Regions from separate parts of the Homo sapiens genome. Here regions 1, 2, 4 and 5 are each linked to region 3. The links come from fine-mapping of genetic effects on gene expression. A gene starts in region 3. Each other region holds a variant in brackets. All regions are shown on one strand. Distances are between the middles of the regions.

Evidence for each region. PIP is the estimated chance that this variant, and not a neighbour inherited with it, causes the effect. A credible set is the group of variants that fine-mapping cannot tell apart.
Region 1: its variant is the best candidate, but not a certain one, in a credible set for the expression of WDR37 in lymphoblastoid cells (GTEx, PIP 0.75).
Region 2: its variant is the best candidate, but not a certain one, in a credible set for the expression of WDR37 in tibial artery (GTEx, PIP 0.54).
Region 4: its variant is the best candidate, but not a certain one, in a credible set for the expression of WDR37 in unexposed skin (GTEx, PIP 0.53).
Region 5: its variant is the best candidate, but not a certain one, in a credible set for the expression of WDR37 in esophagus muscle (GTEx, PIP 0.67).

What each region holds. Positions count from the first base shown.
Region 1 is chr10:1,099,928-1,104,927 of GRCh38, forward strand. WDR37 (WD repeat domain 37) reads left to right here. Exons shown (of 14, transcript NM_014023.4): 10 at 3,675-3,909. Among named protein-coding and RNA genes, the nearest start is that of WDR37, 46 kb to the left of the region's middle. RefSeq lists an enhancer at 2,272-2,804. The variant TA/T (reference allele first, on the strand shown) is at 2,469.
Region 2 is chr10:1,122,804-1,127,803 of GRCh38, forward strand. It overlaps WDR37 (WD repeat domain 37), which reads left to right. Exons shown (of 14, transcript NM_014023.4): 12 at 1,415-1,549; 13 at 2,107-2,221. Among named protein-coding and RNA genes, the nearest start is that of LINC00200, 34 kb to the right of the region's middle. The variant G/A (reference allele first, on the strand shown) is at 2,568.
Region 3 is chr10:1,053,607-1,058,606 of GRCh38, forward strand. It overlaps WDR37 (WD repeat domain 37), which reads left to right and starts at 2,779. Exons shown (of 14, transcript NM_014023.4): 1 at 2,779-3,362. It also overlaps a transcript of IDI1 not described here. RefSeq lists silencers at 2,257-2,316, 2,747-3,176 and enhancers at 2,427-2,476, 3,277-3,336, 3,437-3,496.
Region 4 is chr10:1,093,694-1,098,693 of GRCh38, forward strand. WDR37 (WD repeat domain 37) reads left to right here. Exons shown (of 14, transcript NM_014023.4): 9 at 2,477-2,553. Among named protein-coding and RNA genes, the nearest start is that of WDR37, 40 kb to the left of the region's middle. RefSeq lists an enhancer at 1,945-3,144. The variant T/C (reference allele first, on the strand shown) is at 2,938.
Region 5 is chr10:1,029,587-1,034,586 of GRCh38, forward strand. All of the region lies in intron 1 of IDI2-AS1 (IDI2 antisense RNA 1), which reads left to right. Among named protein-coding and RNA genes, the nearest start is that of IDI2, 6.2 kb to the left of the region's middle. The variant G/A (reference allele first, on the strand shown) is at 1,954.

The DNA of each region.
Region 1 (5,000 bases), 46 kb after region 3:
TGATGCTCAGGAAATTCAAAATGTGCACTGATGGTGGGCGTGGTGGAGAGGTGAGGAGGGTGAGCATTGATGCTCAGGAAATTCAAAGGAGTTAATGTATGGATTGTTTTCCAAATAAAATAAGAAAAACACTAATTTTGTGAGAGGGAAGATTCATGTCCAGTACTTACATTAAAAACACCTAATAGTTTACTTAGAATGTTCACTTAATTTTATTTTCTTCTTTACTACTTTGCTTGTGTTGGGTGAGTGCACTTCTCATATTGATAGCTGCCACCTCAAGATTTGGGGCTGGTGTTGGGGGTTCTGAGTTAAAGATGAACCTCTGTGATGTGCTGTGACTTGAGCTGTCCTGGGAGCACTGCACACACAGTTGTGTTGGGCCCTCCCTAATAAGGAGGAGGCAGTGCAGCCTGTGGACGGCCAGGTCCCTGCAGAAATGGCGTGGGAGGCTCCTTCCAGCACTACTGGATGAAATGAGGCTCCTTAGGTGGAAAGCAGTTTTGTTTTCTGAAGCTTTTGCCGGCCAGTGTTGACTCTGATTTGCTTAGCAGTTCTAATTTTCAATTTTAACACAAACTCTAATCTGTTAAAATCTGTGTTCATCTTGAATCATTATAGCTTTTGGGCAAACGTCTTGTGTTTTAAAATTTGCATCTGTGAGTTTTGCTTGACATCCACAGTGTTGATAAGGAAGCGTTTGGGTGGCGTAGTGGAAACAGACTTAGACCAACAGAATGACTGTCACATGTGAGTTAGGTTACACTGAGTTACTCGTTTAACTTCCTCAGCCTTCTTTTTCTTCTTTGAGGGGTTCACCCCGTGGCTGCTCCTGGCTCTTTGCTGTGCTCCCTCCAGAGCCGTTTTCCCAGCCACGTGCAGTGCTGTCACCCATCACCCCCTGCCTTCAAGGTGACGTACCGAGTACCCCCCTGCTGCAGCCTGTCTGGGGGCCTCTGCCAGCCTTGTGAGCCTCGGGCCCCCCGTCCCGACTGAGCTGCACGTGCCACCCTGAACTTGCTGTCTCTGGGTGTTCCTTTCCTTGTGCCACCCGTCTCAGGAAACGTCCCTGTCACCCAGTGCTTTAGACCAAACACCTTTCCACCGTCTGAACGCCTGTATTGTTCTCTTACTGCCTGTGGAAATCACCCTGTCAGCCACTCCTGCAGCAGAGGGCGCTTCAGTTCTTTCTTCCCACCCTGCTCCAGGCCGCCCTCCCTGCACTTCTCTCATCTCCTGTCCGTCTCCCCCGTTGTTTTCTGGGGCTGCCATAACAAAGTGCCACAGGCAGGGTGACTTCTGAACAACAGATCCGTGTTCTAAACAACAGATCCGTGTTCCCACAGTCCTGGAGGCTGGAAGCCCGAGATGAGGGTGTGAGCAGGGCTGGTTCCTCCTGAGGCGTCTTTCCATGGCTCATAGATGGCGTCTTCTCCTGGATCCTTCATCCCTCTGGGAGTGTCTGTGTCCTCATCTCTTCTTACAAGGATGTCAGTCCTATTGGAATAGGATCCACTCTCCTGGTCTCATTTTACCTTAATTATCTCTTTAAAGCCCCTTTCTCCAAACAGCCCCATTCTGAGGTCCTGGGGTGAGGACTTCGACACAGGAATTTGGGTCCACAGTTCTGCCCATAGCAGCCCCTTCCACTGTTCCCTCCGCAGTTTGTTCACACAGCACACACCGGGCATCACATCCTGCCGACAGCCGTCTGGTGATTTTGCATCACACGGAATAAAACCTGGTGTCCTTTCCAGTCTCCCGGGATTACAGGAGCTGTTCCCGACTTTGCCTCCCGTAGCTGTTCCGCACATGGCGGGAATGTTGTTCCTCAGCCCGGGCGAGCCTTACTTAACCTTTCCTTTCCTCACATCCGACTCACGTGCGACCTCATCAGAGAGTCCCTCCTCAGTAATTCTGTGTGAAATAGCGCCCCCATCCAGCTGCCCCTTGTCCTGTTTTATTTTACTTCATAGAAGTTACTACCACCTTACTCTGTGTCTCCATGTTGATTTGTGTTCCCGTGCTGCTCTGCATCCATGTGATATGTGTTCCCGTGCTGCCCTGGGTCCCTGTGACGTGCTTTCCCTTGCTGCTGTGCGTCCCTGTGACGTGCGTTCCCTTGCTGCTGTGCGTCCATGTGACATGTTTCCGTGCTGCCGTGCGTCCCTGTGACGTGTGTTCCCGTGCTGCTGTGCGTCCCTGTGACGTGGGAACCCTTGCTGTTGTGCGTCCCTGTGACGTGTTCTCGTGCGGCTGTGTGTCCATGTGACGTGTTGCCGTGCTGCTGTGCGTCCCTGCGACGTGCGATCCCGTGCCGCTGTGCGTCCCTGTGACGTGCGTTCCCGTGCCGCTGTGCGTCCCTGTGACGTGCGTTCCCGTGCTGCTGTGCGTCCCTGTGACGTGCATTCCCTAGTAATGTATATGTGCTCATGACGTGCCTGTGTTAGGCCATTCTTGCATTGCTA[TA/T]AAAAATACTTGAGACAGGGTAATTTATAAAGAAAAGAGGTTTAATTGGCTGATTCTGCAGGCTGTACAGGAAGCGTGGCACCAGCATCTGCTTGGCTTCTGGGGAGGCTTCAGGGAGCTTGGAGCTTTCACTCACAGCAGAAGGCGAAGCGGGAGAAGGCGTCATGTGATGGAAACAGGAGTAAGGCGGGGGCGGGGGGTGCCCCACATCCAAGCAGCCAGATCTCTTGAGAGCTCACCCACTATTGTGAGGTCAGCATCAGGCTATGAGGAATCCTCCCCCATGAGCCAGACACCCCCACCAGGCCCGGCCTCCAACACAGGGGATTCCAGTTCAGCATGAGATTTGGGCTGGGACAAATTTCCAAATTATCAGTTCCAGTACTAGTACTTGTGTATATATGACATACCTCTCCATACTAACGGGTGTGTGTGTGTGTGGTCTCTCTCTTTTGCTAGAACAGAAGTTCTCTGAGGGCAGGGGCTTTACCAGGGGTCCTCACTCCAGAGTTCCTACCTGCTAGATTGAGCGTAGTTTTGCATGTGTGCATGTCAGAAGCCGTCTGTCCTCTTCTGCATTGTGTAAGCAGCACCTGGGCTGGGGGTGGGGACTGGCACTCTGTCACCCCCTGATAAATATTTGTTGGATGAATATACAGATTTTCTTACAGAGCTGGCTGTAATGTGTTTGTTTTAGCCTTGGCCTTTGACAGGGGGCTTGATGTTACAAAGGAAAATAGACTCTTATGACTATAGCAATAGAATTCCAAGTATATTTTAAATAGGCTCTTGAGAATGAAAATGCCTTTTTGTAATGTGATAAATTACTGACTTTCATTTGTATTTGGTTAGTTTTATATTGCATTTCTACTAGTAACTGATGAAAGCTTAAATGTTGAAAATCATTTTATTTGCCATTCTGTTGATGCGTGGAAATAAATGGTAGTTCGGTTGACAATGTTGTGGATTCCACTTTTTTTTCTGTACGAGATGGTCGTAGAGTTGATGGGTGTTCACGGGCAGCAGTTATGGGTCAGAGGAGGACATACTCATCACTGTGGCCAGCACCAGGCTCCTAGTGGTGACCATCATGATGGATATGTCCTCAAGAGATTAATGAGAACCATCTATTTTGTAGCTATGTCAGAAGAAACTCAAGATTTCCAGGAAATGTCTTTCTTTTCTGGCCTTCCCTTTGGCAGCAGATATCTGGGGAAGATGAAGTAGAGTGCTCTGACAAGGACGAGCCCGACCTCGATGGGGATGTGTCCAGCGACTGCCCCACCATCCGCGTCCCACTGACATCCCTCAAGAGCCACCAGGGCGTGGTCATCGCCTCCGACTGGCTGGTTGGGGGGAAGCAGGCTGTGACTGCCTCCTGGGACCGGACGGCAAACCTGTACGACGTGGAGACGTCCGAGCTCGTTCACTCTCTGACAGGTGCCTGGGTTCTCTGAGTCCGCCGCCTCCTGGCTGTGCATGTTAGTTTATGTCCATGGGTTATGTCTGACCTTGCCACTTACTTCTTGACCAGAATGAGTCTCTGTGTTCTTGGCTCTTCTGTGGTAATTTTTGGAGATTCTTTCTATTAATAATAGAACTATTGGTAGCTAAATTTATTTTGTCTTCAGGGGTTTTAAATTGTAGCATGTAGTATCTAGATATTGGACATATGGTAGTTGTATTAGTTTTCCATTGCTCTGTAACAAATTTCCACAATCTTAGTGTCTTAAAACGACAGGAATTGACGGCCTCATGGTTTCCCAGGTCAGTAATTCTGGGCCCGTGGTAGCTGCTCTTCTCCCTGGGCCCTCAAAGACCTAAGTGAGGGTGCTGCCTGGTCAGGACCTCCCCAAGGCTGCGGTCCTCTTCCAAGCCTGCTGGTCATTGGAGGAGCTCCTTCTTGCGTCTGGAGTTTGAGGCCCTGTCTTCTTGCCAGCTGCCAGCCGGGGCTCCTCTGGGCGTGCAGAGGCTGTGTCTGGCCCTGGGGCCCCTGCACAGGGCTTGCCTTTCCCACACAGCAGCCGCTTTCCTCTGCAGCTGGAGCTCCCCTGCTGCTCTGAACTCTCCAACTTCTGGGACCCTTTTTAAGGGCTAGGCCAGACCACCCAGGACAATATTCCCTTTGATGAAGTCAAAGTCAACTCATTTAGGGACCTTAATTACATCTGCAAAATCCTTTTTGCCTTATAATGTATCATAATTACCAGAAAGATAATCTCATCCTATTTACAGGCTCTGCCCTAACTGAAGGGAAGGGTGTTAGGCATGTACGGGGTGGGGGTGGCTTGGGGCCATCTTGGGATGCTGCCTGCTGAAGTTGCTTCTGCGAATCTATCTCTAAGTGCATTTCCTGCATGAGCGTTAAAGATTGTATTTGACTGAGGACCCATAGCGTTGTATCATTAGAAGGTATTCTAAGCAAAGAATCAAGATTTAAGTGGTTCTCACATTCAACCTGTTAATTTGCCTGACCTTCTAACTGGTAGGGTCAGAAAATGGGTTATGCACCTGTTTGGTTTTCTGTTCCT
Region 2 (5,000 bases), 69 kb after region 3:
CCTCAGCTGGTGAGGACATGATTTCCTCTGCAGATTTTGCCTGGGTTTCTTCAGTGATTCTCAGTGCAATTCAAGTGATAACATCCTTTGTTTACATGTTTAATCCGATTTTACCACGGGTAAGACTATTTAATATACTTAGCACCATGTCAAACACTTTTTTTTACATTTCAGAAGAAAAGTTTATGAAAGAGTTTAACATAAACTGATGAAACCTTTCTTCCCCCTCTCTTCTTGTTTTTATGGTACTTTTCATCTTTAGGGCGTGGGTCTCCCATCTTAGCCATTTCAGGGCCTCTTCGGTTCCTCGAGCCTCTCCCTGAGGGCCACATATTTCAACACATTTGAATTAAAAAGAAAACTATTAATTATTATTTTGGATTTATAGAAGCAGGTTCCAAGAGTGGTTGTGATGTTGAATTTTTCTCCTCAAACTTTTTAAGATAAAGATTGTGGTTAAATATACATAATATGAAACTTACTATTTTAACTGTTTTTATGTGTGTACTTCAGTGGCATTAAATCAATTCACATTGTTGTGCAACCACCAGCACTATTTCCTATGCTTTTTCATTATCTCAAATGGAAACTCTGCACTTGTGAAACTATTCATGCCCATCCCCCAGACCCCGAGAACCTCTGTTCTACTTCCTGTTTCTCTGAATTTGCCTAGTCCAGGGATCTTAGATGAGGGGGATTCTTGAAAGTTCATTCATGTCATAGCACGTGTTAGAGTTTCTTTTTTTACGACTGAATAATATTCCATTGTGTGTACACGCCGCATTAAATCCATCTGCTGATGGACATGTGGGTTGTTTGCACCTCTTTGGCTGTTGTCAGTAATGCTACTGTGAATTCTGGTGTGTGGGGCTTCTTGGCTGTTTGTATATCTTCTTTGGGAAAATGTTGATCCAAGTCCTTTGTCCGTGTTTGAATTGTTGTCAGAGTGTTTTTCTCTTAACTCCTGTGTTATGATTACATTGATTGAGAGTTGTTGTTGGAATGGATTTCTTTTAAATTCTCTGCTATAGACCAAGATATGTTATGATTACATTGATTGACAGTTGTTGTTGGAATGGATTTTTTAAATTCTCTGCCATAGACCCAGATGTGTAGACATTTGGGCATGTTCTGTCCAACCCTACTTTCTGTAACCTCTCTTCGTTCCGTTGCCTGTAGATGTGGAATAGAGTAGAATGGACTGTGTGTTTCTGATCCACTGGGAAGAAATCAGTTGTCCTTTTCTTGCACTGGTGGAGAGGCTTTGGGAGGCGGGAGCAGTTTGCAGAGGAGAGAGCTGTGAGTTTGCGCTTCTCCGACCTCCTTCCCACCCACTTGGTCAGGGTTGTGTGTGGGGTGTGGTGTCACGTCCTGCACCTGCTGTTGCATCTGACTCTGTGCCCTTTGTTCATAGCACTGTGACTTCTGCCGTGTTCACCGTGGGAGACAACGTGGTTTCAGGCAGCGATGACCGCACGGTGAAAGTCTGGGACTTGAAAAATATGAGATCCCCCATTGCAACTATTCGCACGGACTCTGCCATTAACAGGTAAAGTCAAACTGTTGGTTAAGTAAGTGGCTTAGTTTGATGTGAAAGGATTGATTGTGATTTCATGTTTTATTCATGGAGGTTTAATTGATAGAACCCCGGGAACAATGGTTTAGGCTCCTTTGTCCTCTAATGCAGTTTCAGTATTCCATGAAAACTTAAACTAACTTAGCCTAAAACCAGGTTGGATCAGTGAGATTTGTGAGAATGAGAATGACCCGTTTGTGGCAGACATGCAGGGCTTCTCTTGACTTCTTGTGAGGATTGGTCTTGTGTCTGGGTGGGTCTGGTTCTACCATTGAGCAGTGTGTGTGTGTGTGTGTGTGTGTGTGTGTGTGTGTATTGTGTGTATGTGCATGGGGTCTGTGTGATCTTGTAGCTACGTGTGAGTAACTTGGTCTCTTTTGAATACCGTAAGCAGGTGGTACACGCAGTGTGTTCATGTAGTCGGCCTTGAAATGTGAATAATATGGAACCTCCTGCTTCATTATCTGTCAACTCAAAAACTTACAGTGTCACTGTTTCATGCACAACCCACTTTTACCTCTTCTTTGCAGGATCAATGTATGTGTCGGCCAAAAAATCATAGCCCTCCCCCATGACAACCGACAAGTGAGACTGTTTGATATGTCAGGAGTGCGCCTGGCGCGGCTTCCCCGGAGCAGCCGACAGGTAACAGCACGGTCGGTGAACATATGCAGGGCACAGTGGAGGAGGACGGGTAGAGATATTTTACATTCTCATTTTCTTACTAAGTCTTTGCATGCTAAGTTTTCCTTGGAAATGCTTGAGCTGTATTTAGAGTTCATAAAATTTAAAATTGAAGAAGTAGAGTTGTACACTCAAGTTATTCCACACCTACTTCAGTGTTTTTTTTTTTTGAGACAGAGTTTTGCTCTTGTTGCCCAGGCTGGAGTGCAGTGGCATGATCTCACGGCAACCTCTGTCTCCCAGGTTCAAGCAATTCTTCTGCCTCAGCCTCAGCCTCAATCTCCCGAGTAGCTGAGATTACAGGCAT[G/A]CGCCACCACGCCTGGCTAATTTTGTTAGTCAGGCTGGTTAGTTAGTCAGGCTGGTCTTGAACTCCTGACCTCAGGTGATCTGCCCTCCTCCGCCTCCCAAAGTGCTAGGATTACAGGCGTGAGCCACCGTGCCCAGCCCAGTGTTCTTAATACCATGATCGGCTTTTCAGTTTACAAATAAAGAAAACATGCAGCTCCTCTGTTTCACAGGCATGCGGAACGAGCTCTTTGGTGCACGTGTTAGTGGTGGTGGCTCTGTGGGGAAGCCGTCTTAGATGTCTGCAGTTGTGTCTGTGCAGATTGGAAGTGTTGAGTGGGCATTGTGGCCAGGCAGAAGCTGGGTTGGTTGTAGGCTGGGGGTCTTTAAGGTGGGACCTCTTCCACCTCCAGCCAGAAGAACACGTTTCTATGGCAGGCTGTTGCGACAGGAAGAAATATATTTAAATGTTAGTTTCTTGTTAGTGAAGGGTTGCTCCTTGCTAACTTCAGAAGACGGCGGAGGGAGTTTCTCGCTATGTGCTGTTCAGCCCACCCGTCCTGGTTGCCTGGAAGGCGCAAAGAGAATCGAGACTCCATGGCACCCGCACAGATGCAGAGGCCCAGGGGGCCTGGGGGCCCGTGTTCAGATTCCCTGGCGGCTCTGCTGTGCTCTGCAGCCGGGCCTCACTATAATGTGGGTGGCGTTTGCTGTTGGCTCTCCCCTGGGAGGTCACAGGGTCAGCTGCGATGCACAGAAACTCCCCGGGGTCAGTGGCTGGTCGCAGTGGCTGACGCCTGTAATCGTAGCACTTTGGGAGGCTGAGGCGGGCAGATCACGAGGTCAGGAGATCGAGACCATCCTGACTAACACGGTGAAACCCTGTCTCTAATAAAAATACAAAAAAATCAGCCAGGCGTGGTGGCGGGCGTCTGTAGTCCCAGCTACTCGGGAGGCTGAGGCAGGAGAATGGCGTGAACCCAGGAGGCGGAGCTTGCAGTGAGCTGAGATCGCGCCACTGCACTCCAGCCTGGGCGACAGAGCGAGACTGTGTCTCAGAAAAAAAAAAAAGAAACTCCCCGTGGTCGAGGCAGCGTCTGCCCAGCCTTGTGCGTAATGGAGGCCCCCCCAGAGGATCCCTCTTTCCTGTCTTCTTTTGATTTTGTTGGAGTACTGTCTGGATACCTGTGTGAGTAAATGGATTTGTTCCCCGAGGCCTCCTGTGGCTGCACAGGGCCACACGCCTGCCGGCAGCTTGGGTGGCCCCCTCAGTGCCTCTGTGGCTCCTTCTGTGGACACCAGCTCATGGCTCGTGGGCCGCAGCTGCTCTGCACGGGGTGTGAGCCTCAGAACCTGCAGGCAGGCCGGGTGGTCAGGGAGGCACGTGCGAAAGTGGGGGTTCTCTCAGCGCAGCAACACCTTTTCTTCCGGTAGCACAGACTTTCTGGAAATGAGCTTCCCTGAGACCGGGTGTCTCTTCAGTCCCCTTCCTGGCATGAGAGTGCACTGTTTGAAGTTAATTATTGAGTTTTTACTCCTCGATACACATCCAAATAGTGGAGTAGAAAAATTTCATGAAATTAGAGTGACTAAAATATGCTTCACAACCCTTAACACAGCCATAAATTGCTTGTCCTGGGGAAGCTTTTCATGTTTTGTTAACAGCTGAGCATCACTCATGTGTCCTCACAGCTGCATCTTAGACACAGTAGAATGTTCTCTTTTCAATGTGCCCATGCGGATTTTAAAATTTCTGTGCAGCATGTAAAGTTTGCATTTTGAAACACAAATTCATGAAAACTATTTGTTTATGACTGTGAACTATGACTTTATTACTTTGAGAGTATTTTCCCTCAGAAAAACGGAATTCTGAATGGTTCTTCTTGGCCTTAATTCTGTGTAGACAGTTTTATTTTCAGTTATCTGTGAACATTCAACTTTGTTGATGTTGTAGGATTCTGTTGTGCCTGGGTTTATTCCCTCCTAAAGTGGTATGTGAAATAGATTTATTTTTAAGATTAATGAATGTGATTTAACTTTATTTAGAACTTGTAACACCTCTTCAGATAAATAAATGTGGTTTTCAGTGTCACAGAACCCTGCTGGAAATCACTGACTTATATTGTCCTTACTTCTTCAGCTGACTGACTTGAAAAAGAGAAAACAAAACACTTATTTGAGCCTTTAAGTAGTGGAGTGAAAGGGACTGATTGAAAATATTTCCCTGTAGTGCTGGAGTAGGTGTCACTTCCCAGCATGAGTTTTGGGAAAGCGAGCTTGGTGGAGAGTCAGGAGGTCCGGGGTCAGGGTTCCTGTGAAGAGCAGGCTCATTGGGCGTGAGGGTCCCTGCGCAAGGGTCTCTGTGACGTGGAGGCTCACGGAGTGTGAGGGTCCCTGTGATGTGGAGGCCCGTGGGGCCCCGTGCTGAGCGTCCTGGAGCACATCACGTGCACTG
Region 3 (5,000 bases):
GCTGTTTCAACATGCCTTCCTCACCATGCTTAATCATTAATCATTTCTAGTTTTGATTTAAAGTAAGAGATGTGCAACTCATTCTTTTATGAAACAGTAGCCATTTTAGGGCTATTAATTGCCTGATTTTTTTTTTTTTTTGAGTCAGGGTCTTGCTTTGCTGCCCATGCTGAAGTGCAGTGGCGTGATCACAGCTCACTGCAGCCTCGAACTCCTAGGCTCAAGCAATCCTCCTGCTTCAGTCTCCCAAGTAGCTGGGACTACAGGCATGAGCCACCACCATGCCTGGCCCCTAATTTCAGTATTGCTGTGTCTCAAGGATAGGGAGGTCTGAGCAGAAGGAGAGAGATAGGGAGGCAGCTGGTCAGTGCAGTGGTCAGAACACATAAAACATTTATCGACTCAGTTTGCTGTCTTATATAGGGGTGGTTCATGGTGCCCCCCAAGCAATTATGACAGTAATATCAAAGATCACTAATCACAGATCACTATAACTGATTTAATAACGGAAACATTCCAAGAATTACCAAAATGTGAGAGAGACATGAAGTGAGCACATACTGTTAGAAAGATGGTGCTGACAGACTTGCTCCATGCAGGGCTGCCACAAACCTCCACTTTGTAAGAAACATATGATACCTGTGAAGTGCAATAAAGTGATACACATGAAAACAGTTGTGCCTGTTACATGACATATATACACACATATATATAACTTGAGAATTTAGGAAGCGACATGTCAAACAGCTTATAACACTATAGTGTACTATCCAAGTGTTTGAGACACAGTTAAAATAATCAGTAATGAGGACAATGACAGAATACCTAGTAAATCTTAATTCCCTATCAAACCATGCGCAAAAATGAGTCTTAGTAAATTCAGCATTGTTGCCCTATGTCAGGGACAAAGTACATGTATTTTGCATAGATGGACATGTGACAAAATAGAAATTGGTTTTCTGAGACAGGATTCTCCACAGCTTCTGCAGGAGGGAGAATGTAACTGGATACCAGGATTGCAATCATAACCTTTTATAATTTCGGCTAGTTTTGTGTCTTTTAAAAAAATTACATTGGATAGTTATTTCAGGATACAGTGTGTTATGGGTTAAATTGTGTCCCCCTTTCAAATTCATGTGTTAAAGACCTCACTTCCAGTATTTTATAATGTGACCTTATTTGGAAACAGGGTTGTTGTGGATATGATTAGTTAACATGAGGTCATATTAAAGTAGCGTCTACTGTACTCCAATATGACTGATGTCCTCATAAAAAGAACGCTAAGTGTGCAGACAGACACGGACATGGAAAACGTCATGTGAAGACTGGCGGGGGCATGCTGCCACAAGCCAAGGAATGCCTAGACGCTGAGATGCATTAACAGGCTCCCATCACAGCTCTCAGAAGGAATCAACCCTGCCAATACCTTGATTTGGGACTTCCAGTCAGACCTCTGACAATAAATTTGTTTAAGCTGCCTAGTTTGCAGTATTTTGTTCCTGCAGCCCTAGCACATCAACAGTGAAAAGAATATGGATTCTGATGCCAGCCTTTAGTCTTTGCCCTGCTGCACGATTATTTTTGACTTTTGACGAGTAATTTCCACATTCTCATGCTTAAAATTCAATTTAGAATAACTTTTACTTTATTGGATTCCTTTGGGGATTAAATTAGTTACAAAAGATGTAAAGCGACTGATCCTCAAAATGATTTCTTTCCCTTGTTTTGTGACATGTCATGCTCTCAGTTATTTTCAGTGACTTTTATGGAATCCTAAATATATCAACTTAAAAAATTACATTAGCGATATTCTTGGTGTTACCTGACTGTGGTGCGGTCCAGAAAAATAAAACCACCTGTTAGAATGCGGGTTAATTAGATGGGACACTGCGATTTACAAAGCTTTCTATTTGCTGCCATGCCCAGTACAATGTCTTTGCATACTAGGTACTAAATAAAATTATGTTACTTAAATGTCACAACCTCTAAAAGTTTAAAAAATGACTTCTCTAAAAACTCAAATATTTTTTTCCTTGGCGTTCCTCTTACAGAATTGTTTTTAGTGATAAAGTTTTATTAATATACTTAATGCAGAAATAACTTCACTTCTTTTTTTTTTTTGGTAATCTGGATCCCCTAAATAGAATGCTAAATTTGTTTCTTGTGCAACAAACAAGTTACCACTTCTGACTCTTCATCTTGAGCTTCCTTATTTTTTTTTGGAGACGGAGGCTCGCTCTGTCCCAGGCTGGAGTGCAGAGGCGCGATCTCGGCTCACTGCAACCTCCGCCTCCCGGGTTCAAGCGATTCTCCTGCCTCAGCCTTCCGAGTAGCAGGGGTTACAGGCGCGCGCCGCCACGCCCGGCTAGTTTTTGTATTTTTAGTAAAGACAGGGTTTCACCATGTTGGCCAGGCTGGTCTCGACCTCCTAATCTCGTGATACGTCGGCCTCGGCCTCCCAAAGTGTTGGGATTACAGGCGTGAGCCACCGCGCCTGGCCTTGAGCTTCCTTTTTAAAGGAAGGAGCAGGAATGTTAACCTACACAGAAAAAAAAAATGCTTTCACGCTCTTGATTTACTCTAGGTGGGCTTCAAATGCGCGGTTAGCGCTTTCTGTAGAGCGTTGAGACGGCTGTTTACGTAAAGACCATCATGCGACGTTTCCAACCTAGATTCTAAGAAAAAAGCGGCCCAAGTCCCACCTTTCGCAGGGAACAGCTGATTCTGTTTTTCCTTCCCAGCCAATGGTGATCAAAAGCTTCAGGACGCTGGTGAGTCACTGCGGAGGAGCCGAACACTGACCGCGCCGTCCCCGCCAGGCTCCCGCGCGGCCGGCACCGCGGCCCTGAGCGCAGGCGGCCCCGGGTCTCAGGCCTCAGGCGGACCGCGCCCCGGGCTCGCAGCCCTCCCGCCCCGGCTGCCGGGCTACGGGGCAGATGGACTCGGAGCGCCCCGCCGGTGAGTAGCTACGACCCCCGAGGCCACCTCCCGCGAACCGCTCGGCGGCAGGAGTACGTGACCAAGGGTGGGGGCGTTGGCCCAGCAGCCGAAGGGGTCTTCAGCGCGCCCAGACCCCTCGGGGCTGCGGGGCGGAAGCCGGGGCGTGACTTCCGGCGCCGCCGGGTGTGGGGCGGAGGTGTGGGGCGGCTTCCGGAGAACCCAGCGGCGCGGGACTGGGGCGGGACTTCCGGCGACACCGGAAGTGCATTAGCGCCAGGTTGGGGTTGTGGGGTCGCGTCAGTGCGGAGACAGCGGTGTCCTGCGCGTCTTCGGGTCAGTACGGGGGGCCGCGTCGTAGGGACTCACTGGCGGTGCGCGACCTGGGCTGGCTCCGGGGGTGGCGGGCGCAGCTGCTGTGACAGGTGAGTGCCGCCATCTTCCTACCTGTCAGGCGCCGAGTCGTTCCCCGGATGCCCCGAAGAGGAGTCGGGACACTGCAGGGCTCAAGGGGGTGCAGGGGCAGTCGGGGCATAGTGGCGGATGGGGTGCAGGTGGGCTTGGAATGCAGAGGGTCCGTGGTGGTGCAGGAGGGGTCGGGTCCCTGGAGGACCCGTGGCGGTGCAGGAAGGGCCGTGGTGCAGAAGGGTTCAGGGTGCAAGAGAAGTCGGGGCGCAGGAGTAGTCCGTGGCGGTGCCAGAGGGACCAGGGTGCGGGAGGGATGGGGGCCCGGGGCGGTGCAGAAGATGTCGGAGTCCAGGAAGAGTCGGGGCGCTGGAGGGGTTGGGGGCAGAAGGGTTCGGCCCGGGGTCTCTCCCCGCCCCCTTTGCTTCGGCCTGGGCATCCCGGGGAAGTGCGTCTCCAGGGAAGCACTTGGGAGGCCCTTCAGAGAGGAGAATGGCCTTTCTTCTCTCCAAAGAGTGGGGATGGTCGGCTTCAAGAAGGGTGGTGAGTGTGGAGTGACGGATGCTGAAGTGATTAACACAGCGCCATGATATTGTTCCCCTTTTGAAGACTTCCTTTTCCTTCCCTTCCCCCTGAAAGCAGCCACCGCTGGAGGGAAACATTTTAAGACAGCTGTTCACCGGAATAACACAAGAGCAACAATAATAATGTACTCATTTACTAAACCAAGTTGAATAAATACATTTTTCCAGGTTGTGAGTGAAAATAGCTTAAGGTCTGCCAGGTTTTTAGAGATTTTGTCATTTAACTTAAACGCTAAAACATTCGTCCCTTGAAGCGGATACCATTATAGAAAAGTGTTAATTGCTTGGAAGTTTCATTTATTGAAGTTCAAGTGTTTTTCTCTTAAATTCAGTATGTTGGCCTGTGAGTTACGGTCATAAAAGTATTGCAGGAATTATTTACCTCTGAATGAGAAAGCTCAAGATAGTTATATCTCCAGGAACTTTCTTCGTCTTCTGAACTTCCCCCAACCCCAGCAGACACACACACTGTTCTGGTTACTTTCCTGATCAAATTCGAGTCTTTCAAAATAGCTTTTGATATGTCCCAGGAGTTAAACACGGTATGTAAATATGAACTCACCAATGTGGAACAAATGGAGTGATCTGTTATCCCCTGGGTTTAGACGCTGCCTTTCTATTAATACTGCTCACAGGAGACAGAGTAGGGACTCGTGTGCACTGGCCACGTCTCAACAGCAGTGTGACCTTGGGCAAGGCCTTCCTAAGTCCCGACTCCCTGTCCTCTAACATGGTGTTCATATCAGCCTCATTTTCTTACTGGGAAGGTTACGTTATGTAATATATGCCAGCCATTTTTGCAAAGTGCTGTATACAGGAGATCTTGAGTGAGTGTGTTTCCCTCCTCCTCTTTTTGGGTAGCTATGTTAGGCTGTTCACTTTGGGCATTTGCCCTGAACTAAAATCCCTAAGTCCCTTTCCCCAAGGTGAAACTAAGATAGAGTTTTCATATTTATCCTGTCTTATTCTTTTCAGGGAAAAGATTTTACATCTGTTGAATTTCATCCTTGGTTTAAAGTTGTTCTTTTAACTACTGAGATCTTTTGAAAATCTTGATGGCTATTTATCTGATTA
Region 4 (5,000 bases), 40 kb after region 3:
AGTTGGATTTATTGTGAGATGAAGATGGCTTCACGGTCTTCTCGAAGCCTTTCCGTACAGCATCAGTATGTTTGCTGCTCCCCCCGCAGTTCCTGTAGACGGAGCTCCTTGAGGCCCTGTGGTTACCATTCTGTTCCCTTAGATTGTAGGCATCTGATATGGAGGAAAAGAGAAAAGTAGCACAGAGACACAGCAAGTTGCCAATGTCAGCATTTTTACTTCTTTCTGGGTAATTTATCTAACCCGTGGTAGCTTGGATTTGCTATAATTTCAGAGTAGTTTTAAAAACGTGCCTTCCTTGGTCGCTTTTTCGAGGGTAGCCTTACAGTACTGAGGACTTTTCCTGTGAGATTGTCAGACCCCCACAGATCCCCATGATAGCCCAGGGACATTGGTGATGATCTCGAAGGATGTGTGTAGGCTTTCAGTAGACCAGAGGTCCTTATGATTTTTCTGTAAAGGAGTAAGCAGTGAATATTTTCATCTTTGCGGGACATTCAGGCTCTGTCGCCAGTACTGAGTTCTGCTCTTGCAGCCTAAAAGCAGCGGACAGTGCACTGATGAGTGGACATGGCTGTGTCCACTTATTCACAAAAGTGGGCGGCTGTCTGGGTTTCGCCTATGGGCCAAATTGTGCTGACGCAGGAATAGAACACTGAGGTTGAGATGACTGGCCCCTTCATGCAGGTGGAGTTGTTTAAGAAGGAGCCCCAGCAACAGGTACTTCCAGTGTGTGGGATGCAGCGAGTCATGCGGTTTGGTTGGAGTTTCTATGTGAGAGAGAAATGTGGTGGGAGGGTTAGCCTGAGAGTCATTTTGAGCAGGCCCAGACCACATAGCTGACTTTCACCTTCATACGTGGATGAAGACTAAAGCAGACAAGGAGTTTACACCTTACGAAGTTGGCGGTTTGTGGGATGATTGAAAAGGGAGCAAGGAGACTGGTGGCAATTAGACGTGTCCAGATTCAAACCAAAGGGCTGGAAAAGAGGGTGGAACCAGACACATCCAGGAACTGATGAAGACTTGGAAACATGAGGTAATGGACATAGAGAGGGGAGAGTTAGACTAGGAAACATGAGGTAATGGGGATAGAGAGGAGAGTTAGACTTGGAAACGTGAGGTAATGGACATAGAGAGGGGAGAGTTAGATTAGGAAATGTGAGATAATGGGGATAGAGAGGAGAGTTACACTGGGAAACATGAGGTAATGAACATGGAGAGAGGAGAGTTAGACTTGGAAACAGGAGGTAATGGGCATAGAGAAGGGAGAGTTAGACTGAGAAACGTGAGGTGATGGGGATAGCGAGGAGGGTTAGACTGGGAAACATGAGGTAATGGGTATAGAGAGGAGAGTTAGACTGGGAAACGTGAGGTAATGGGCATGGAGAGAGGAGGGTTAGACTTGGAAACGTGAGGTAATGGGCATGGAGAGAGGAGGGTTAGACTGGGAAAGATGAGGTAATGAACATGGAGAGGGGAGAGTTAGACTGGGAAATGTGAGGTGACGAGCATGGAGAGAGGAGAGTTAGACTTGGAAACGTGAGGTAATGGGCATGGAGAGGGGAGAGTTAGACTTGGAAACTGGAGGTAATGGGCATAGAGAGGAGAGAGTTAGACTGGGAATGTGAGGTAATGGGGATAGAGAGGAGAGTTAGACTGGGAAACGTGAGGTAACAGGCATGGAGAGAGGAGAGTTAGAGGGGAAACGTGAGGTAACGGGCATGGAGAGAGGAGAGTTAGACTGGGATTGGGCATGATGTTGATTTGAGGAGGAGTTGCAAGTCCGGGCAGTACATTCATTTGCATCAAATGTGCTGCATCAGCTCAGAGCAGCTCCTTTAGAGAAGCTGGGTGGCAGTGAAGAGAAGGTGGAAGCCAGCCTGCCCGTGTGTGGGTGAGAGGTGGCCATGCTGGTGTCCGAGGCCTGTTCTGTGCCCCGCAGTGCTGTCCTTTTGTCTTTCCAATCCTCAGTCAAAGCGTTTCCTCGCAAACTGGCTGCTGAAAACAGAGTGGGACGGGAGCCGCACACATGAGCAGTGCTGATAGGTGCCTGGCCCATTGAAAGGCCGCGTGTGTGTTGAATGGATGGAGATGAGTGTCGCTTTCCCGAACGTCTCAGAGTTGATTGCAGCTGTAAGTTCTGATATGATAGGGTTTCTTAGGTTAGATAGATGGAGAGGAAAATCTACTATTTGTACATTTTCTCTGAACTTCCAGGACTTTCTATGCTAAAATGAAAGGTGAAATAGTTTTATAAGTAATCATTATTTCCTCAATTTTGGACATGTACTCTATTTTCAATAGCATTATGCAGTCTCAGAAAAGAGTTATTTAAGTAAAAAGTACATTCCTCTCACTAAGTGGTCACTAAGCTGGAAAGGTCTGACTGCTGCTGCTTAGCCATAGTGGCGGTGAAGAGCGCATTTTACCATGGTCTGTGCCTTGGGTAATTTTCCCCGATTTCTCTCTTCAGCTTCTGGAGATCAGACTGCTCATATCTGGAGATACGCGGTGCAGCTGCCGACACCCCAGCCTGTTGCTGACACTAGTGTAAGCACCTTTCCTTACCTGTGAATGTGTAGGATGCTGATGTCTGCGAATCTGAGAATCCATTTATGATATCTGTCATGGACGGAATGTTTGTGTCCCCCCAAGTTCAGTGTTGAAGGCCTCACCCCCGGTATGGTTGAATTTGGAGATTGGGCCTCTAAGGTAGTAGTTAAGGTTCAGTGAGGTTGCGTGAGGTCCTCATAAGAGGAGACAGTGGAGAGCTCACCTGTGTTCTCAATCTCTCTGTCACTCTCCGTGTCACGTAAGAGCAGAGCCAGAGGGCGGCCGTCTTTAAGGATGAGCCCGCACCAGAACCTGAATTGGCTTGATCTTGGACTTCCAGCCTCCAGCACTGTGAGAAAATAAATGTCTGTTTTTTATGCG[T/C]CGCCCGGTCTGCGGCCTTTTGTTGCGGCAGCCAGAGCCAACTGAGACAGATTTCAGTACCGCGCGCAGAGCGGGGGCTGCTGGAGAAATGCCGACGGTGTGGACCTGGCTTCGGGACCGGGAATGGGTACATGCTGCAGACGTTTTCAGGGACCTGCTGGAGAAAGCCTCCATAGCGGCGAAGAGCTTGTTGGTAGAAATACGGACATCAATGGGGACTCGGGTGAAGGCTCAGAGAGGAAAGGGGAGAGCTGGAGAGAAAGCTTCTAGCATCTCAGAGAATGCAGGTATCATAGACAGAATGTTGTGGAAAAGTGGATGTTGAAGGCCTTTCTGCTGAGGCTTAGAGGAGGCGAGGGACAGGTCACGGGGAACCGGAAGAAAGTGATCCTCATTACAAAATGGCTGAGGACTTGGCTGAGCTGAGATCCTGTGAATGAAATGTTAAAGGTGCAGCCTGGCTGCTCTCCTCGCTTACAATAAAGTGTGAAAGGACGGAGATACTCCGAAAGAGTTGTTAAGGGAAAGGGGACGAGAACTTGTAAGATTTGGGAAATTCCCAGCCTGTGTCTGTGACAAAAAAAAGAGAAAGCTGGTTCCGAAGAGCACATGCAGGGTTTGTCTGAACAGCCAGTTGACAGGGAGGCGAGTGTGGGTGGGAGCCACAGCTTTAAGCACCCACCGCAGCAGGATCCAGGACTGGAGATGGGATTATACCCAGAGACCCCGCCAGCTTGAACCAGAGGGGACATGGTGGGGACAGAATGAAGGAAGGCATCAGACTGCTGGGATTCCACAGCACAGAAACCAGAGCTGCCTGGGCGAGAACCTTTACCACCCTTCAAGATGAGGGAAGAATGCCCCGAAGGTGATTCTGAGGTTGGCAGGGCTGCAGCTCTCACTGCAGTCCCAGGACAAGAGCCTGTTTCTTCCTTGGTTTCGAAGTGTGGGAGCCTCCTTGGTTTCAGGGCCAGGTTGCCCATGGTCCAGTGCTGTGGGGGTGGGGTTGCCAGGCTGAGCCAAGGGGGTGACACCTCTGCCCCAGCATGCCTGGAGGGTGGCGCATCCAGACCAAGAGGGACTCTCTGGAGCCTGAAGAGCTCGTGGAGTTTGCCTTGTGGGGTTTTGGACTTGCTTGGGCCCCACCACCCTTTCCCTGTTGCCTCTTTCTCTCTTTTGGAAAGGGAGCGTCTGTCCAGTGCCTGCCCTACTGTTGTATTTTGGGAACATGTAACTTGTTTGGGTTCCGTGGTTTACGGCTGGAGGGGAGCTCAGCTTCAGGGTGGGCGAATCGCACTCTGAGTCCCACCCAGTCCTGATTCAGGTGATGTTTTGTTGAGACTTGGGACTTCACACCTTAGCGCTGATGCTGGAATAAGACTTCTGGGGCTGTTGGGATGGGATGACTGTATTTGCCATGCAAGAAGGATATGAATTTGGGGGAGGCCAGGGACAGGATGTTCTCAACTGAATGTCTCCGTCCCCCAGAAATCTGTGTTGAAGCCCTAACCCCCAGTGTGGCTGTATTTGGAGATGGGGCCTCTGAGAAAGTGGTTAAAGCAAAATGAGGTAGTGGAGGGGATGCCCTGATCCCATAGGATGAGTGTGTCCTTGTCAGAAGAGACACCAGACAGCTCACCCTTATGGCTGCCCTTGTGTGTGCACGCTCTCTTTCTACCCCCTCCCCATCTGTCCGTTTTTTTTTTTTTTTTTTTGAGATGGAGTCTCGCTCTGTTGCCCAGGCTGGAGTGCAGTGGCGTGATCTTGGCTCACTGCAACCTCCACCTCCCGGGTTCAAGGGATTCTCCTGCCTCAGCCTCCCGAGTAGCTGGGACCACAGATGCGTGTCACCACACCCAACTAATTTTTGTATTTTTAGTAGAGATGGGGTTTCACCACGTTCGCCAGACGGTCTCAATCTCTTGACCTCGTGATCCGCCCTCCTCGGCCTCCCAAAGTGCTGGGATTACAGGCGTGAGCCACCGTGCCCAGCCTCTCTGTGCTAATATTAATAGAAGAGCCCCTGTGGGCACGCGGCAGGATGGCGGTGCCACACACCGGAA
Region 5 (5,000 bases), 24 kb before region 3:
CTTTGCCCAGGCTGGTCTCAAACTCCTGAGCTCAGGCAATCCGCCTGCCTTGGCCTCCCAAAATGTTAGGATTACAGGCGTGAGCCACTGCGCCTGGACCTCCTCCAATATTTGGCCAAGCCACGCAATCTTTAAGCTCCCATGTCTGTCCATGATTGTAGGTTTATAATTTGGAACTTCGGTTATTTAATTAATTAAAAATATTCAGATATATCCTGCAAATAAATACAAAGTTTTTGTACTCAGCATCTTTAGTGCACTTTCCCACAAGGAGTTGTATGTAAATGAAAAAAATAGATAAATGCAAGCATGTAAATCAACTCCTATTATTAACCATTTACTTAGCTCAAGTTTATTTACACCTGAATGAAAAGTTCCATTTGCATCAAAAATACATTCGTATACTCTTAAGGCAGTGTCCGGCGCAGCGGCTCACGCCTGTAATCCTAGCACTTTGGGAGGCTGAGGCGGGTGGATTACTTGGGCCCAGGCATCCAGCCTGGACAACAATGGCAAGAGCCATCTCTACAAAAAATACAAAAACTTAGCCAGGCATGGTGGTGTGCACCTGTAGTCCCAGCTACTCTGGAGGCTGAGATGGGAGAATCGCCTGAGCCTCAGAGGTCAAGGCTGCAGTGAGCTGGGATTGAGCCACTGTACTCCAGCCTGGATTACATATATTTGTATATTCCTAAGGCACATAATGGACCTAGGTCACCAAAACTAAAAGATATTCTAGACCAAAATTTTGAATGTAATTTAATAACCTTGTACAAACCCTCTACAGCTGCACATTACCAAAGCTAGTATCACTGTACCTAGTGGCTTACTGCCTCATTCAATTGAAAAGATCAAACTAATTCAATCCTGCTCTCCAAAGAACACTTTTTCTGAATGGGCTCTCAGACTTTTCCTGAATGGGCTCTCAGATTCTGCTTTCCTAAGAAAGTGTGTTGAGGTAGTTCTTTTTCTGAATGGGCTCTCAGATTCTGCTCTCCTAAGAAAGAGTGTTGAGGTAGTTCTTTTTCTGAATGGGCTCTCAGATTCTGCTTTCCTAAGAAAGTGTGTTGAGCTGTAGTTCTACAGCATTGTTCAATGCAAAGATAGGGTTGGCTGTAGGTTTTCAGAAGGTGACCTTTATCAGGTTGAAGAAGTTCCCTTCTCGTCTTACTTTCTTGAGATTTTATCATGAATTGATGTTGAGTTTTGTCAAATGTTTTTTCTGCATTTCTACTGAAATGAGTCTTGTGTGGTCTTTTCCCCTTTATTCTAGCAATATGGTGTATCATATTAATTGATTTTCAGATGTTAAACTAGCCTTGCTTTCTTGAAATAAATCCCACTTGGGCATGGAGAATATTCTTTTTATATGTTGCTGGTTTCTGTTAATATTTTAAGATTTTTGTATCTGGATTCGTGATTGATAATAGTTATTCTTGTAATATCTATTATAAATAGTTACTGTGTGGCTTGGCCAAATACTGGAGGAGGTGAATTGTATGGATTCAGTAGCAAATTGCAGATTCATTTGAGAGGGCTGCTGTCATCAGCCTTAAGATATCAATCACACTGGGCGCAGTGGCTCACACCTGTAATCCCAGCACTTTGGGTGGCCGAGGTGGGTGGATCACAAGGTCAGGAGTTCAAGACCAGCCTGGCCAACATGGTGAAACCACATCTCTACTAAAAATACAAAAATTAGCCAGGCATGGTGGCAGGCACCTGTAATCCCAGCTACTCGGGAGGCTGAGGCAGAGAATTGCTTGAACTGAGGAGGTGGAGGTTGCAGTGAGCTGAGATCGTGCCATTACACTCCAGCCTGGGCAACAGAGCAAGACAATGACTCAAAAAAAAAAAATATCAATCACATATGTGTCATTTTACTTATTACTGAACATTTCTCAATAGAAATCTTTTTGCTATATTTGAGATATCCCGTTTTCTTCTGCATAT[G/A]CTTTTGGGAGGTAGGATAACTAAAAATATTATATATAAAATATAAAATAACAATATATAAAATAACTAATATGATAACTAATATAACTATATATAGCTATATATACCTACATATAACTGCAATATAACCATAATATATAAAATAATTAATATAACATATAGATTAGTTATAAAATAATATATATAAAACTAATAAAATAACACCAATATATAAAAAATATAAAATAACTAAAATACATTGGTATAGTTTCTTGTAATAACCAAAAGAAAGTGTTCCTTTTTCCTCTATTTCTTGGAAGTGCTTATGAAGGACTGGTAATATTTCTTATTTTTTATTATTTTTGAGACAGAGTTTCGCTCTTGTTGTCCAGGCTGGAGTGCAATGGCGCGATCTCGGCTCACTGCAACCTCCGCCTCCCAGTTTCAAGTGATTCTCCTGCCTCAGCCTCCTGGGTAGCTGGAATTACAGGCGTGTGCCACCACACCCGGCTAATTTTGTATTTTTAGTAGAGACGGGGTTTCACCGTGTTGGTCAGGCTGGTCTTGAACTCCTGACCTCAGGTGATCCGCCCGCTTCAGCCTCCTGAAGTGTTGGGATTACAGGCGTGAGCCACCATGCTCGGCCAATACTTCTTCTTTAAATGTTTGGTAGAACTCACTAGTGAGGCCACTGGGCCTTGTCTTTTCTTCATGGGAAGATTTTAATTACTATGCCTTAGCTGGGTAATACAAAGATGTACCTGCATTATTTCGGATTTTCATCATTTGTGCATTCTCTCTGTTCTTCTTGATCATTCTAGTTAATGGCTTTTTCCAACTTTGTTGCTCCTTTTTTTTTTTTTTTTTTTTTTTGAGACAGTCTCACTCTGTTGCCCAGGGTGAAGTGCAGTGGTGCGATCTTGGCTCACCGCAACCTCTGCCTCCCGGGTTCAAGCAATTCTTGTCCCTCAGCCCCCTCCCCCTGCCTGTCCCTCCTTCCTCCTGCTGAGTAGCTGCGATTACAGGCACACACCACCATGCCCGGCTAATTTTTGTAGAGATGGGGTTTCACCATGTCACCCAGGCTGCTCTCAAACTCCTAGCCTCAAGTGATCTGCCAATCTTGGCCTCCCAAAGTGCTGGGATCACTAGAAGCTTTTCAATTTTTTTATTCCAAAGCAATCTGATGCAGTTTTTGCTATATTTGAGATATCTCATTTTCTTCTGCATATGCTATTGGGAGATAGGAAAGATTTTGGAAAATGTGTAAGAAAAAGGAAGATACTAAAAACATACTAAGATTGTATGTAGGGAAAGGTTACAACTCTAACTTTGATAATGTGCATTAAATCGACAAATCCTTGAAAAGCACAGCTCGATAAATCCAACAAAAGGAGAAAAAGAACATGTGAAGAGTTGAATATATGTGAAAGAAATGTAAGTTCATTTTTCTTTTTTTTTTTGAGATGGAGTCTCGCTCTGTCGCCCAGGCTGGAGTGCAGTGGGGCGATCTCGGCTCACTGCAAGCTCCGCCTCCCGGGTTCACGCCATTCTCCTGCCTCAGCCTCCCGAGTAGCTGGGACTACAGGCGCCTGACACTCCGCCTGGCTAAATTTTTGTATTTTTTAGTAGAGACGGGGTTTCACCGTGTTAGCCAGGATGGTCTCGATCTCCTGACCTTGTGATCTGCCCGCCTCGGCCTCCCAAAGTGCTGGGATTACAGGCGTGAGCCGCCGCACCCGGTCGTAAGTTCATTATTAAAATGGGCCCCATATCCACGTGAATAGGGGTCAGTCTCAGACTTAGCTTTAATTTTCAGCCATGAGAAGACTACTGCTCTTCCTCCAACACTCACTTCTCTATTTTCTCTATCGTTTGATCCTGTCTCCTGTACAACTGGGTGGTATTTAACCATGTTTAGGCTCAGGTATAACCCAAGCTCTGAAACTGTAATAGAAAATTAAGTAAATGAAAGGCAAAAAATGAAAGACTTAATAAGGTTTAAGCTGTTATTCATCTAGGAGGCTGAATAACAATACATATACATGTTTTTGTTGTTTATGTGTATATATTTTTTATGAATAGAGTTGTTCCTATTATGTTGTATCTTGTAATAATTACTAATGACAAGGTTCATAAATAGCTAGATGTTAACATAACTGGCCAAACTCCAGTGACAAGGGCCCTGTTACAATCAGTAGGACCAACCTGCTAAGACCTGAGCTCAGAGCTCAGGGATGGCCAAGGTCAAGGCCCAGTGGTTGTGACGAGATGCCAGGAAACCTTACCCACTGCATGCCTGTGTTGTGCCATGGTGCTGTAAGTAGTCTCTTTGGGTACACTGCCAGTAGGCTTTTGGCATACATGTATGGGCTAGTATTTTCAGGCCAAAAAACTATCCCTGTCTCATTGTTTACTATTTTTGTGCAGCAATTTGGTTTTACTGTTGGTTCTTACTCTGGTCTTGCCCCAAGTTCAATACTTTGGTTCTTCTCTTCTCCCTAAACTTTCCCTGTCCTGATTCCCTGAGAACAATTCCCTTTTCTCTGAATTGGGATCCTATTTCTACCCCTTGCATACATACCCCTCCTAATTCTTCTGGGTAAATTTCTATGCCCATTAACTCTAGACATACATTTGTAAATTACTGAGACCCTAAATTGAGAATTATGTTTGCCATTACTTTTAAAAGTGTAATCTGAATCCCAGCACTTTGGGAGGCCGAGGCGGGCGGATCACGAGGTCAGGAGATCCAGACCATCCAGACTAACACGGTGAAACCCCGTCTCTACTAAAAATACAAAAAAATTAGCCGGGCGTGGTGGCGGGCGCCTGTAGTCCCAGCTACTCAGAGGCTGAGGCAGGAGAATGGCGTGAACCCGGGAGGCGGAGCTTGCAGTGAGCCGAGATCGCACCACTGGACTCCAGCCTGGGCGAAGGAGCGAGACTCCGTCTCAAAAAAAAAAAAAAAAGTGTAATCTGTTTTTTTGCCTCCTGAAATCACTTATGTATAAACACATTAAAGTGGGTCACCGTGTCACGTCTTGGGCTTCCTGGGACAAGAATCA